Regions from separate parts of the Homo sapiens genome. Here region 2 is linked to region 1. Evidence: fine-mapped expression QTL. Tissue or cell type: whole blood. Region 1 holds a variant in brackets; the other region holds the start of a gene. All regions are shown on one strand. Distances are from middle to middle.

Region 1 (8,104 bases):
CAGGGTGAATTAGGAAACGTCTCTGCTCAAGAAGTCAAGCAAAAATCCAGGATTAGCTCTTACTGGAACTCATTGCCCTGGCTTGAGTCACCCTCAACACTGACACATTGTTTTCAAGACATATTCACTGAGCACTTACTATATGCTGGAAACTATTTAGACTCTGCGTAATACAACAGAGAATGAAGCCAAATCCATGCCCTCATGGATCTTTCATTCCAGTCGAGGATGGTGGGGACAATCAACAAAATAAATTAGTAAATATGTAGAAATTTAGTGCTGCAGGCCAGGCGCAGTGACTCACGCCTGTAATCCCAGCACTTTGGGAGGCCAAGGTGGGCGGATCACGAGGTCAAGAGATCAAGACCATCCTGGCCAACATGGTGAAATCCCATCTCTATTACCATTTGACCCAGCCATCCCATTACTGGGTATATACCCAAAGGATTACAAATCATGCTGCTATAAAGACACATGCACACGTATGTTTATTGTGGCACTATTCACAATAGCAAAGACTTGGAACCAACCCAAATGTCCAACAACGATAGACTGGATTAAGAAAATGTGGCACATATACACCATAGAATACTATGCAGCCATAAAAAATGATGAGTTCATGTCCTTTGTAGGGACATGGATGAAACTGGAAACCATCATTCTCAGCAAACTATCGCAAGGACAAAAAACCAAACACTGCATGTTTTCACTCATAAGTGGGAATTGAACAATGAGAACACATGGACACAGGAAGGGGAACATCACACACCGGGAACTCTTGTGGGGTGGGGGGAGGGGGAGGGATAGCATTAGGAGATATACCCAATGCTAAACGACGAGTTAATGGGTGCATCACACCAACATGGCACACGTATACATATGTAACAAACCTGCACGTTGTGCACATGTACCCTGAAACTTAAAGTATAATAATAATAAAATTTAAAAATATTTATATATATAAATTAGCTGGGCGTGGTGGCAGGTGCCTATAGTCCCAGCTACTCGGGATGCTGAGGCAGGAGAATCATTTGAACCCAGGAGGCGGAGGTTGCAGTGAACCGAGATCACGCCATTGCACTCCAGCCTGGGCGACAGAGCGAGATGCCGTATCAAAAAAAAAAAAAAAAAGAGAAGAAATTTAGTGCTGCAGAGAAAAATAAGCAGGAAAGGGGGGCAGTGAGTCTCTAGCATGAATGGAAAAGAATAATAGCAATTTTCAGTAGACAGTCAGGAAAGGCCTCACTGAGAAGATATCTGGGTATGACCCGAGCAAGGTGAGAGAACAAGCAACAGCGTGATCTAAGGAAAAACTATTCGAGGCTGAGAGCAGCAGCAGCAGCAGCAGCAGCAGCAAAGGCCCCGAGGCAGGAGAGGCCTAGTGTAACTGAAGGGCAGCAAGCAGGCCGGTGTGGCTGGAGTGCAGTCAAAGCAAAGGCAAAGTTATAGGATTTTTTTTTTTTTTTTTTTTGAGGACAGGGTCTTGCTCTGTGACCCAGGCTGGGGTGTAATGGCACAGTCACGGCTCACTGCAACCTCCGCCTCCCAGGCTCAAGCGATCCTCCCATCTTAGCCTCCCAAGTAGCTGGGATTACACGTGCATGCCACCATACCTGGCTAATTTTTGTATATTTAGTAGAGACGGGATTTCATCATGCTGGCCAGACTGGTCTCAAACTCCTGGCCTCAAGTGTCTGCCCACCTTGGCCTCCAAAGTGCTGGGATTACAAGCATGATCAACTGTGCTTGGCCAGTAAGAGGATTTATAACCAGAGAGGCACAAGCCTTGTAGGCCACTGTAAGGCTTCAGCTTTTCTAGTTGAGGTAGGGAGCCATTGAAGGGTTTTGCACAGAATGATGAGAGCTAATCTGAATCTTGAAAGGACCACTCTGGCTACTGTGTGGAGAATAGTCTGTAGGGGGGAAAGGGCAGAAGCTGAAAGGCCAAGATCTGAGGCTACTGGCTATGATCCAGGCAAAATGTGATAGTGGCTTTGATTAGAGTGTAGCTGGGGAGATGACAGAAAGCTAGCATAGATAGATCTTGCAGGTGGTGCCAATAAGCTTTGCTAGTAAGATTACACTGGGGGTGTAAGAAAAAGAAGAATCAAGTATGATTCTTAGTTTTAGGCCTAAATAGCTGGAAAGATGAAGCTGCCATTATCTGCGATAAAGAAAACAGAGGCCAGGCACGGTGGCTCACGCCTGTAATCCCAACACTTTGAGAGACCGAGGTGGGTGAATCACTTGAGGCCAGGAGTTTAAGAACAGCCTGGCCAAAACAGCAAAAGCCCATCTCTACTAAAAATACAGAAAAAAATCAGCCGGATGTGGTGGCGCACGCCTGTGATCCCAAGTACTCGGGAGGCTGAGGCACGAGAATTGTTTGAACCCAGGAGGTGGAGGTTGCAGTGAGCTAAGATGGCGCTGCTGCACTCCAGCCTGGGTGACAGAGCAAAACTGTCTCCAAAAAAGAAAAACAGATCAAGAGAGAAGCGGATTTAGGGGCAGAGATCAGAAGCGTGGACACAGACATGTGAGATGCCTAACCTAACAGACATCTAAATGGAGATGTTGAACATGTAGGTCTGGAGTTTGAGAGAAAAGTCTAGACTAGAGATACACACTGGAATCTTCTAGGTTCTCAAGGGTATTGAAAGCCATTAGATTGAATGAGGTCGCTGGGGTGGTGAGAACAAATAGAGAAGTCCAAGCACCGAGACCTCTGAGGTACGGCTGTGTTTAAAGGTCAAAGAGATGAGGCTCCAGCAAAAGTGACCAAAAAGGAGTATGCAGTGAGAGGAAATAAACATCGCGAGAGGTCCGCATCCTAAAAGCCGAGGGGAAGGTACCTCAAAACAGAGTGATGGGTTGTTTTCAATGCTGCTAGTAGATCAAATCTGATGAAAAGGAAGAGCTATTCTGTGTAGCAATGTGGAAATCACTGGATCAGAGGAATTTTGGTGGAGTGCTGGAACAAGTCCCAGTGGGGGGACAGAACTGGAGAGAGCACCAGACCAATCTAAGAACTGTATTATAAAGGAGAGCAGAGACATGGAAGTGGCACAGGTGGAAGTGGAATTAAGAGCTTTTTTCCTGTTTTTTTGCTTTTGTTTTCGTTTTTGAGACGGGGTCTCACTCTGTCGCCCAGGCTGGAGTGCAGTGATGCGATCTCAGCTTGTTGCAGCCTCGACCTCCCCAGGCTCAAGGGATCCTCCCTGCCTCAGTCCTCCAGAGTAACTGGGACTACAGGTGTGCGCCACCATGCCTGGCTAAGTTTTTTGTATTTTTTTATAGAGATGGGGTTTTGCCATGTTGGCCAGCCTGGTCTTGAACTCCTGAGCTCAAGCAATCCGCCCGCCTCAGCTTCCCGAAGTGCTGGGATTATAAGCGTGAGCCATCGCACCCGGCTTTTTTTTTTTTTTTTTTTTTGCCAGGTTCTCACTCTGTCACCCAGGCTGGAGTGCAGCGGTGCAATCATGGCTCACGACAGCCTCGACCTCCTGAGCTCAAGGGATTCTGCCCGCCTCACTCCCCCAGAGTAGCTGGCACCACAGGATGTTTGGCAGCGCCCCGGCCTCTCCCTCCTGGGTGCCTATAGTACCCCTCTCCCAGTCATAACCAACAAAAGCGTCTCCAGATATTGCCAAAGAACTCCCAAGATTTTGTCCCCCAGGGGACATTTTGGGTCATCACAACTGGGTGGTGGGGGAGGATGTGTGCTACACGCATCCAGTGAATAGAGGCCAGGGATGCTGCAAAACATCCTACAATACACGGGACAGCCTCCTACGACAGAGTTAGCCAGTCCCAACCCATCCTGATCCAGAGGAAGAGCACGAGAGCAGACGGTGGCTGGCAGGGGACTTCCAGAAGTTCTCTTCTGATTGCTTCCATTTTTTCACCGCAATAGGAAGCTAGATCATCAGCTGTAACCGAGATT[A/G]GGGTTGGGGGTACAGGAGGTTTACGGAGATAAGACATGAAACCGTCCTTAGAAGTGGACACGTATTCTGGACTGCAGAAAGGGTTCACTTGAGCTAAGCAGTCATGAATTTAGTGTGAAACCAGTCAGCTTGGATGTGTTCTTCTTGGGCCATGTTCAGGGGCAGGGTAGGGAGACAGTCAGATGTAAGAGATTGTGGTTTTACCAACAAGCACAAGGAAGAAATGAAAGGGCAAACAAGCAAGTGATAAAAATGACCACAGAATTTGAGCTGGGTGGGGCCGGGCGCGGTGGCTTACGCCTGCAATCCCAACACTTCAGGAGGCCGAGGTGGGCGGATCACTTGAGGCCAGGAGTTTGAGATCAACCTGGCCAACATGGTGAAACCCCATTTCTACTAAAAATACAAAAAGTAGGCCAGGTATGGTGGGGGGGCGCCTGTAATCCCAGCTACTTGGGTGGCTGAGGCAGGAGAATTGCTCGAACGGGAGGCAGAGGTTGCAGTGAGCTGAGATCGTGCCACTGCACTCCGGCCTGGGCAACAGAGCGAGACTCCGTCTTAAAAAAAAAAAAAAAAAAAAAGATTGTGATGACACCTTGCGAGGGGCGGCGGGGAGAACAGAACACAGTTTCCCTCCTGGAATGGAGAAAAGGAACAAGAGTTTTTCACCAAAGGCAGATACCTGTGTCGCATGCAACAGAGGGACACCAGCTTCTTTTCTGCACAGAGGTTAAGCATGCAACAGAGGGACACCAGCTTCTTTTCTGCACAGAGGTTAAGTGTGGGAACTTGGCAAACATACCTTTATACCCAGGGGCAGACAGAAAAATCGGGATGTGGGGGGCTGGAGAGCAAAGCATTTCCTAGAGACACCATCCAAAACACAACCAGTGGGTGTAACTTTAGGGCCAGTTCCTGGCAGTCTTGTTTTCGACCGCTAGGGGTTTGGAAACAGGTGGGATACACTTATTATCAGGCTTCCCAGGAGTCCTGAGGCTCACTGACTAGTGGGAAACGTGGAGCTCTCAGGAACGTATCCTCCGGCCGGTGGCTGGCCACTCTGGTCATCTCGTGGCCCACAATCTAGGCATCAAGCGCTCGAGAGGCCTCTGAAAACGTCTCACCAAAAAAGCAGACTAGAAGGGGGCCCCATGATGAATATGACAGGGAGCTAACTGAGGACATCGGGAAACGGGTACTAGAAAAACCCACGCCACTAGCTGGCCTGCCTCTACTTCTGGGCGGGGGGCGGGGGTGTGTGTGTGGGGGGGATTACATGGCAGATAACTGCCTCCGTTTTCCTACGTGGAAGATGGGCATAACATTGAGACCCAGAGGTGAAAGGGGACGTGTTTAGTCCAACCCTTGTATTTACAAAGGAGGAGACTGAGACCAGAGGTGAACTGACTAGCTCGAGCACCCAGCTCATGAATGGCCAAATCAAGACGAACATCCAGATCCCCACCTTAGTGTTCCCTGCACCCACCTGGTTTCTTCCAGAGGCCTTCCCAGGAAGACAGGAGTTGGCTGAAGGGAGTTCCTGCCACAAAATCAGTATCACTTATCAACCTACCGACCTCAGCAGAAGATCCAGAGAAAAGGACAGCTGCTGCCTGCAGACCAAGTTCACCTGGGCGCTTAAAGATGCCCCCCCCCCCCCGCCCAAATGATTGCAGGTGGGTTTTCAAGCTTGAGAATGGTGAGCAATCCTAGGGTGGTGACGAAGATCCACCTGGAAGCCCTGAAGAAGGCAAATGACACTGACGATGAAAAACAAGAATCACCCTTTGTGATGGAGGGTCCCAGCCCGTTACCCAGACTACAGTCCTGCAAGCAAGTCAGGGACCCCGCACCAGGTTGAATACTCTGCTGTTACCGTGTGAAATTCTCAAAAACTTAACAAGGGGCCTGGCATCTTCATTTTGCACTGGGCCCCTCAATCACGTGGCCAGGGCCGCTGCCACCCTGGAAGCCATAGACGGGTGGCCCCGTCTACACGTCTTCGTCCCCCAACCCCTGCAGCCCTAGACTAAGGAGACCTAACGGAAGCCCTGGCATTTGCACCCCCTAGGCCTGTCCTCGGGAGGGGAAGAAGGCTGCGGGAAGGGGCAGGGGAGCGGGTAGAGGTCCACACCCTCGGGCAAAGGGCCCGCTAACCAGCGGCCCGTCCTCCTTGCTCCGGAGGCGAAGCCTTCCACGCCGCCGCAAGCGGCGACGTCCTGACTTCCGACCGGCAAGTGGGCCGGGTGGCCGAGGCTCAGTTTGCCGGTTGGGAAAATGGGAAGGCGCGGGGCCCTCGCGGGCGGAGGAAGCTGCCGGGGGCGCAAAGCCCGAGCAGGGTGCACTTCCGGCCGCCGGGCCGCCCCGCCGGCGCCTCGATTGAGGGAAAGTTTGGGGACAGATGATAGCAGGGAGGTGCTCTCGGCCGGGGTTCCGGCCTCGCCCTGGTCCCAGGGGCCGCGACTGTGGCGGGCAGGGAAGACAAGCCGCCCAAACGCCGGAGCCCGAGACTCGAAGCCGCCGCAAACTCCTCGCCTCGGGGGCGGGGTCACGGTGGAGAGGCGGGGCTCCGGCGGAGGGACCGGAACTGCTGTGAGTCTATGAATAAAGTCCCAACAATATTCTTCCTCGTAGAGGTTCCATAGTGTAGTGGTTATCACGTCTGCTTTACACGCAGAAGGTCCTGGGTTCGAGCCCCAGTGGAACCATAGCCGTAAGGCGGCTGTTTTTGCTTTTATAGGGTTTCGTTGTTTGGGTTAAAAAAAAAAAAGGGTTTGGGTTAAACAAACAAAAAAAACCAAAAAGCGACAACGAAGTGTTTTTCTTTGTCCTTTTTTTCTTTTTAATTTTTTGGCATGTTTTTCTCGCAGAAGTGAAATGACAGATACCCTCTCCTATCCCACAAGGTCACTGCCGCCATAGTCCGACATGAGAAGTAGTGGAGGGCAGGGGCCGGGCGAAGTCCTAGACCCGATCCGGCGCCCCCGATCCGGCCGGGCCCTACCCCACCTCTCCTCCCAGTACGCCTCGGAAAATCGGGCGCTCGGGGAATGCACCTGGCTGCCCTTTGCCTGCAAGCCAGCAAGGGCCGGCCACCCAACCTCCAACTAAAATGTGGCAGGCAATACAGCAGCGCTTTGACTGCAGGTGAATTATTAAAGGTCGGTCATGATTATGACTCTGATTAAAAGTTCTATTTTTCATTAAACTCTGATGTGCAGAGCACGAAAAAAAAAAAACCCCACAGTCCCTTTTAATGCAGCAGTAGAATTTGTGGAATAGAGTTCATACACAGTATAAAATAAATGTCAGGCTTGTAGACATTCAATAAATACTGGTTGAATGAGCAAACGTTTCTCTAGTTTCTTTCTGTTCCTCTTTACTATTTCATTACAGTTTCCTTTGGGGAGTTTATTATTTGTTTAAATATTGGCTTTTTTATCTTTGACAAGAGGAATGAGGGTGTGGGCCATGGTGAGATGGTGGTAGCAAAAAATATAAAATGGGAAGGGGCACTCAGTATTTTTCTCTGCATTTTCAACCTAGTTATGCATCCTTAACAGTGTAGAAATTTGCGTCTTTTTCTAACTTGAGTGTAACTCTTTCCCTGTTATTACAATCACTTCATCAACTTTATTCTTTTTTTTTTTTTTGGAGGCGGAGTCTCACTCTGTCGCCCAGGCTGGAGTGCAGTGTCGTGATCTCAGCTCACTGCAACCTCTGCCTCCCGGGTTCACACCATTCTCCTGCCTCAGCCTCCCGAGTAGCTGGGACTACAGGCGCCTGCCACCTCGCCCGGCTAATTTTTTGTATTTTTAGTTGAGACGGGGTTTCACCGTGTTAGCCAGGATGGTCTCGATCTCCTGACCTCGTGATCCGCCCGCCTCGGCCTCCCAAAGTGCTAGGATTACAGGCTTGAGCCACCGTGCCCGGCCTTTTTTAAAACCACCTTAACCATTTTTTTTTTTTTTTGAGACAGAGTCTGGCTCTGTCACCCAGGCTGGAGTGCAGTGGTACAATCTCGGCTCACTGAAACCTCGGCCTCCTGGGTTCAAGCGATTCTCCTGCCTCAGCCTCCCGAGTAGCTGAGATTATAGGTGCACGCCACCACGCCCGACTAATTTTTGTATTTTTGGTAGAGACGAGGTTTCGCCATGTTG
Region 2 (8,091 bases), 250 kb after region 1:
TAAGTTGAAATGTAGTCCAACTGATGCCATGATCAGATGATAAAGAATCTGTGAGATTCTGTCGCCTCCTTTAACAAGAAATTTGATGTTGCCAAATTATTTGATGTTGCAAAAAAAAAAAAAAAACTTTAAAATCTAAAATTACCCAATTCTGAGTAAATAGCTTTTTCTACTTAGAAAGCAACTTAATACTTCAAATTGTGCTATTCTTGTACCAAAGTGAAGGGTCATCTAAAAGATTTCCCTCATGTTTTAGATCTATGCATGTGAATTAATTATTCCTAAAAGCCTCATATTATTATTTGACATCAATTTATTACATAAAAAAGTCATATTCCCACAGTAACTGCCAAAAATCAGGTACTGTGTTAGCATACCTAATATCTAGAGGAAATAAAGATCACCACCAGTTATCAAAACGGAAGGGGAGAGAATGTGAATTTTAACAGACACGTTGAAGAAAACCTATTTTCCTTGCTCTCTTTGCAAATTTCTTACAGCCAATTTCTCAGATAAAGCTAAATTTTCTTTTACAAAGTAAACTGAAATGAAAATCATAATGAAAGGTTAACTTTCTGCAAGAGAAGCCACTGTCATTTCCAACAATGCAGCTATTGTTAACAGTCTCTCATAGATTCCTGGACACAGTGGTGAAACAAGGCTAGGGGTGATACTTAAAGGAATTTCTCCACCTCTGTCTTTCAGTTTGTAATGTAACAATACTGTACCTTCAAAGTAGAAACACCACGTAAAATCTGGTTCCCGTTAACTGAAACTGCCTTAACCCCAAGCAGCATATTTGCAACCGAATACATCTGATTCGCAATCAGTCAACCTTCTATTACCCATCTATGCGAGACGGCCCTGCAATTTCTTTCAATGGGAGCCTTTCCTTTTAAAACCCCAGGGGACACAATAGATGCCACACTCTGATTTAAATAATTCCAAGAAAATTACAATATAAACAAAGGCAGACTTAGGGAACTTGCATAAGTAAAAATCAAAAACCTGAGAAAAAGGGGTAAAAAAATACCAATCACAAACCCCTAAATCATGAATAAATTTTAAGACTGAGCCAGGAAAAAAGGAATTACTCTCTGGACAAAGAATTCTATTTCAAATTTAAAAAAAATATATCGGATTTTGATTTTAAAAAATTTAGGCTTAGGAAATATGCTAAACAACAAAACTGGAATACTCAACTGTTTGATATATATACATCTAGCAAATTAATCGCTGCATTGACTATGTTAAAAAGGCAAGACAATTCAAAGAGATTTGATACCCTCTCCAATTGAGGAACCCCCAACTACTCTGAAATGGCAGATAATATCTAACACTCTTGGAATGGTTAACTTTATTTAGTATGCCTCTTTTGTAGTTCTATTATTTAATAGAGCCAAACGGAATTTTTCCCTAATTAGGTTTCCTTGTACTTGTGAAATGCTCAGCATACAGTGCTGGCAGCATTAGCTTCTCTCTTCTGGCTCCTTCCCCCCTCAACCACCCTCACCTCCCCCCCAACCCCCGCCCCGAAAAAAAGATTTCCTTCCCAAATGTTCTCTTCTCTGCATTTGTCAACAGAAACACCTACTGGTGGTGTCAAACTGCTAAGACTGCTGCAGGCTTCCTTATTCCTGGTTTCAGTGTCAACGCCAAAAATTCTCAATCCTAAAATAGTACTTTTAATAAAAAGAAATTAGAAGTCTTGCTAGGTACTCAACCTATCATATTCTCGAAAAGCAGCACGCCTTTTTTAAAAATCTATTATTAATGGACCCTAATTGGATTGTTAATCATAAGATCATACTATCACCTTCAACACTAACATACAGGAACAAGTAAATATAGCCTCTTCACATTTTGTGAACAAAACATTTTAAAACACTTGAAGGAAATAAAAACAAATTTACATCTAAGTGTCACTCACATGTAATTCCGAATAGCCTCGGTGAAGATGTCTTTTTTGTAACCCTACAGCAAGAAAGAAACAAGCTGGAAATGTTCCAGCAGATGTTACCTAAAACGATAATCCTGTTCTATACACATCTCTGTCTCCTGTTTCTGACAAACGCTCTCAGACAAATTAATTTGTGTAATCTTTTACATTAACTATATAACCATTACGTTCAAACAAACCTAATTCAGATGCACAGAAAGAAATCATTCGGTGTCAACAATACTTTCTAAAATCAGCTTAAATTCCAGCCAATTAAAATAGATTGTGCTAACAGAATACTGATCTGCAACTACTTAAATATCACAGCACCCGTCTAATCTCACTGTAGAGATACTAAGGTCAGGCTTTTCTTATTCAGGCATCTGTTCTTTAACACTCAAATGAAGCGAAAAACAAAACCCTCAAGGAAGATCTGCCTTTACACTGAAATATGTTCAGGTTATTTTTTTCCCCAACGTGGGCACAAAACGTGTCAATGCAAGGAGGACCTGTTCGTTCTGGGAGACGGTTCCAAATCCCAGAATCCGATTTCTATGAGGGTCCAAAAGGTATGAAGGTCTGAGAAGGGGCCATTCTTCTTCCCCGCACTATGCCAGTCGTGAACTTCACAGCATCGCCTGAAACTTGTCCGGGGGAGGTTGCGGAGCCGCGGGGCCGGCGCCCGGTCGCTAGCCCACCCTCGCGGGCAGCCAAGGTCAGAAGGGCCCGGGCCGCGACTGACGGCCCCTGGCGAGTCTCGGGCTCCCTCCGAACTCGGGCAGGGGGCTGGGGCGCGCAGGCCCCTCCTCGGCGCCGGCGGGAAGGGGCTTACCTCGCCGCAAGCCCCGGGGAGCTCGTGCCGCGGGAGCGGCGGGGCGGGGACGCCGCAGACCCGCCGCTGAGGGGAACCCCGCGGGGCGGGCTCGACCCGCCGCCCCTCTTTCACACCCTTTCGCCTCCCCACACCCCAAAAGACAGCCCCAGCCCCTCGGGGGAAGCCCTTCCAGAGGCGCAGGGGAGCGCTGAGGAGGGGCTACTCCGGGCTGGGACGTCCTCACCGCGTCGCCCCGTTCCGGGGGAACCGGCGCCCCCGCCCCTTCTCTTGTCCGCCCGGGGGGACTGGGTGGGTCTCCACTCTCAGGAGAAGCTGGGTGGACGCGGGGCCGATGTAAGGGTAAGAAGGCTTGGCGGGCGGGTGGCGGCGCGACTACTCACCCCGCCGAGTCCCCCACTTCTAGCAGGGGACCCCACAGCTCCTGAGGACGCCGTCGCCGCTTTACCTTCCCCAGCGGCAGAGACAACTAATCGAAACCTCCGGCCCCGCCCTCTAGCAGAAGCGAACGCGCAGCCTATTTTGCTAACTGCCCCGCCCCAGCCGGCCCGTTCGGACCAATGGGAAAGCACCTCAGGTTTTGCCCGATCCCGCCTTTACCCCGCCCCCTTCTGGTAGGAGCCAATGAGGAGGAAGCGCTTGTCCTGGGGTTCGGGCTCGCGCCGCTCGTGCTCGAGTCTCCGAAGCCGAAGAACGCTGGTTCCTTATACAAGCTCGCCTGCGCGCTCACGCGCGCGCCGCGCCTCCTGGCACGCCAGGTTTGGTTGCCCCGCCAAGCCCTAGCAACCTGGGCTGGAGAGGCTGAGAGGGGCGGGGCCCGAGCCTGGAGTCGACGCCGGGGGGTAGAGCGGGGAAGCAGGGAGAGGGTCGACGGTGGTGGGGTGGGGAGATCGTGACTGAGAAAGGGGTGGCTGCGGGGGTAGGAGGTGGCGAGGAGGCCCCGGAATCCGCCTGTCACTGCGGAAAAAAGAGGGAATCCTGCCTGCAGCGCAGCTACCCTGCCCTCCCTCCGGAGGGACCCGTGCCGGGGGCTGGGGTGGGGGAAGTCGGAGAAGAGGGGGAGAACATACTCGGGGCGGGAGCTGAGAAATACAGGATGGAGGATGGTTTATCTCTGTTGTTGGTAAAAATGATATCGAAGTCCATTGCTGCTGCTGCCCAACTGTTGCCGCTGCGTGTGCACACACACACGCACATATGCACACACACAACACACACTCACACGTACACTCATCCAGCAGCTTGCGGTCCCTTGGGTGAGTTAGGCGCAAAGACCTAGCAGCCTGAGGATTCCTTACACAGCAGCTGGGCGCGTGCAAAGAGCTGTTGCAGCAGTAGCAGCAGCAGCAGCAGCAACGACCCACACCTCCGCTTCGGTCCGATGCTCTGCCACACAAGATCCCCCAGCTGGCTTGAAAGCAATGAAGTCATCGCCCAACCAGTACAAATGTAAAGATCTTAATACCCACCATGGATCGGGTTTCCAAGGAGGATGAAGAGGTGATGAAATTGAAGGAGATAACATTTCCAATGCTACTTTTAGAAAATAAAGAAAAAAAATTTTTTTAAAAAGACATTGGGGACAAATCTATGGAAAGCTGCATAATTATTTTCGCTTTAACAAGCAAAGGAGAAAAATAGGGTCTCTTCTGGTTAGGAAAAGCACGGAAAATAGGCAGTGTATGAGGTCATAGCTGCCACCAAATTAGAAAGATGCAGTACTGTAATAGGAAATAGATATTTGGGATAAAATCCACTTAATCTATTCCTGTAGTGAATCTGGTAACAATATGTAGCAGCATGCTCAGTTTGGCCACTTGATACCAAGCCAATAGGATTTTCTTTTTCATAACGGTGAATATTTGATGAGGAAATGAAAGTGGAAGCATATTAGAAAATTTTACAGGTAGGAGCAATGAATTAGCAAAGAGGGAAAATGGAGTCAGAGGCAACAACAGAGGGCTTCGCAGAGTCTCCTGCCTCCTCCAGATGCAAAGTAACAGTGCTGTGACCTCTAGCTTCACCCACGTGGATCCAGAACTCCTGGGGCAATCACTCCATTTTCATCCCTGTATATCAGAGCCTTTGTACTAGGAATTTCAGCAGCATTACCTTTGACTCAAATGAATAATTTTTTAAAATTTTATTTAGACCTGGTGAACCGGAAGTAACAAATTAATTATCCGTATAGATTGAGAAGATGGAGAAAAAACAATAACTGAACATCTGTTAATATAGGTCCAATTTAGTATTAAGTAGTAATATTAGATGCCTTATAATGTGCCATCCCATATACACAAATATGACCTTCTGCTTAGGGACATTTGCTTTGATCTGGTTTTAAGTAGTGGTAAAGGATTTCTTGCAGTCACTTGCAGTTTAGTTAATTCGTCTTTTGGTCAAAAACTAACCTTTCTAGAAAGTTAGTAAAAGTTTAAAAAGTACCATGCGCCGGGAGCAGTGGCTCACGCCTGTAATCCCAGCACTTTGGGAGGCCAAGGCAGGTGGATCACCTGAGGTCAGAAGTTCGAGACCAGCCTGGCCAACATGGTGAAACCCCATCTCTACTAAAAATAGAAAAAAATTAGCCGGGAGTGGTGGCGTGCACCTGTAATCCCACCTACTCAGGAGGCTGAGGCAGGAGAATTGCTTGAACCCAGGAGGTCAAGGTTGCAGTGAACCGAGATGGTACCACTGCACTCCAGCCTGGGCTAGAGTAAGACTCTGTCTCCAAAAAAAAAAGTACCATGCTGCCATTTAACTGAGCACTTATGTAGAAAGAACACTAATACTAGCCAGTGAATGGATACCTGCTCTGTGCCAAGAACTTCACATAGATTTAGGGTTGCCAGATAAAATACAAGATGCCCCGTTAAATTTGAATTTCAGATAAACAACGAATAATTTTTAGTATAAATGTGTATTTTTATCCTGGATACATGTGGAACAAGGCTAGAAAACTAAATAAGGTTCTAACCATTGCCAAAAAAATTACGAAATGCCCTTCTAGGTCTAGACCTTGTAATGCAATCAGGATCTGGGAGAAAAGCTTAAGAACCAAATTAATGTATAAATTTGTAGTGTTTGTAGAAAGAGGTGAGCATACTTAGACTAAAATATTATTTGCTGTTTATCTCAAATTCAATTTTAACTGAGCATCTTCGATTTTTATTTGCTAAATCTGACACATTATCTCTAATCCTCTCAATTCTCTGCGAAATTCTCACCATTTTCCAGATGAAGAAACAGCTTGAGAACCTCCCCAGCATCGATTTGCTTTTTTGCCCTTCTAATAGAACCCCAACTCTGTTCAGGCATCCACCCGCTCCACACTACCCAGAGTCTCAGTCAATCAATGTGTGGCCTAATTACACTGAAGGAAAGAATTTAACATTTGATGGTTTGAAAGAGGTTTTCCCTGTCTACCCTGCTGGATGAACAAGGAAGCAAGTACGCTTGTTGCCACTGACAGTCATTTCGTGACTAAGAGGAAAACCAGCCCTAGGTCAAAGCCTACACACTAAATAAGGCAGAATCAAAAAATAGAAAAAAAAATTTTTAACTGGGTTCTTGATGACGTCACTGAGTTGTTTCATTAAACAAACTCTGCCCTTTCCTTGCATTTCAGACAGTTTGAGTCAGACTTTCTATTAGATGCCAGAGACGCATCCCACTACAGATGTCAGAACCTATGAGTGCTACTCATTACGGGTCTCAATAATCAATAAACAAGTGGTAATCAAGATGTAAGACATTTTTGGCTGAGCACGGTGGCTCACGCCTGTAATCCCAGCATTTTGGGAGGCCAAGGCAGGCGGATCATCTGACATCAGGAGTTTGAGACCAGCCTGACCAATATGATGAAACCCCGTCTCTACTAAAAATACAAAAATTAGCCGGGCATGGTGGCATGTGCCTGTAATCCCAGCTACTCGGGAGGCTGAGACAGGAGAATCGCTTGAACCCGGGAGGCGGAGGTTGCAGTGAGCCGAGATTGCGCCATTGCACTCCAGCCTGGGCAACAAGAACGAAACTCCATCTCAAAACAAAAAAAAAGTAAGACATTTTTATCCTTGATATATGTGGGACAAGTCTAGAAGACTAAACAAGCATTCTATTCATTGTCAAAAAAACATTTATGAAGTATCCATCTGGGCCTAGACCTCATAATGCAATCAGGATCTGGTAGAAAAGCTTAAGAATCCAATCAACACATAATTTTTTTTTTTTTTTGAGACAGGGTCTTGCTCGGTCACCCAGGCTGGAGTGCAGTGGCATGATCTCAGCTTACTACAACCTCTGCCTTCTGGGTTCAAGTGATTCTTTTGCCTCAGCCTCCCTAGTAGCTGGGACTACAGGCGCACGCCACCACACTCTGCTAATTTCTGTATTTTTAGTAGAGATGGGGTTTCACCATGTTGGCCAGGCTGGTTTTGACCTCAAGTGACCCGCCTGCCTCAGCCTCCCAAAGTGCTGGGATTACAGGCATGAGCCGCGGTGCCTGGCTCAGTGCATAAATTTATAGTGTTTGCAGGAAGAGGTGAGCATTAGTTATTCCTCGGCCCTGCTCAGAGCTTAAATCAAACCGTCAGATCTTACATGTTTTCATTTAAAGTTTATATCATTTGGAAAATTTTCATTTTGGAAATTTGAATCCAATTCCTCATTTGAAACAAAGCCTCTATCTTTGTCCTCCAGGCACTGAGTTTAACCAGGAACAGTGGGGAAAGAACAGAAATGTCAGCCTTAACACTTTAACCAATATTCTTCTGTACCTTGAGCAAACCTTACATTGCAATCATATCTTTTAAGACTCGGGCGTCAGATGGCCTGGGCTCAAATGCTAGCTCTAGTTATGTCCTTGGGCAAATTGCTCAACTTCTCTATGCCTCAGTTTCCTCCTCTGTAAAAATGGAGATGAAGCCGGGCGCGGTGACTCATGCCTGTAATCCCAGCACTTTGAGAGGCCAAGGTGGGTGGATCACTTGAGGTGTGGAGTTCGAGACCAGCCTGGCCAACACAGGGAAACCCCGTCTCTACTAAAAATACAAAAATTAGCTGGGCGTGGTGGTGAGTGTCTGTAATCCCAACTACTTGGGAGGCTGAGGCAGGAGAATTGCTTGAACCCGGGAGACAGAGATTGCAGTGAGCCTGAGATTGCACCACTGCACTCCAGCCTGGGCAAAAGAGTGAGACTCCGTCTCAAAAAAAATTGGAGATGATGAAGATGATAATAGTGCTTACTTCATAGGTTTAGGTGAGTGACTATTTGTGAAATACTTAGAAGAGTATCTGACCCATAGTAAGGACTTTATAAAGA

What was found. PIP is the estimated chance that this variant, and not a neighbour inherited with it, causes the effect.
Region 2: it holds the start of CDKL5, and the variant in region 1 is fine-mapped to the expression of CDKL5 in whole blood (TOPMed, PIP above 0.99).

What each region holds. Positions count from the first base shown.
Region 1 is chrX:18,673,457-18,681,560 of GRCh38, reverse strand. TRV-TAC1-2 (tRNA-Val (anticodon TAC) 1-2) reads left to right here and starts at 6,580; the gene lies at 6,580-6,652. It also overlaps a transcript of PPEF1 not described here. RefSeq lists a silencer at 6,469-6,655. The variant A/G (reference allele first, on the strand shown) is at 3,944.
Region 2 is chrX:18,420,759-18,428,849 of GRCh38, reverse strand. CDKL5 (cyclin dependent kinase like 5) reads right to left here and starts at 3,242. Exons shown (of 18, transcript NM_001323289.2): 1 at 3,155-3,242. RefSeq lists a silencer at 2,922-2,991 and an enhancer at 3,327-3,621.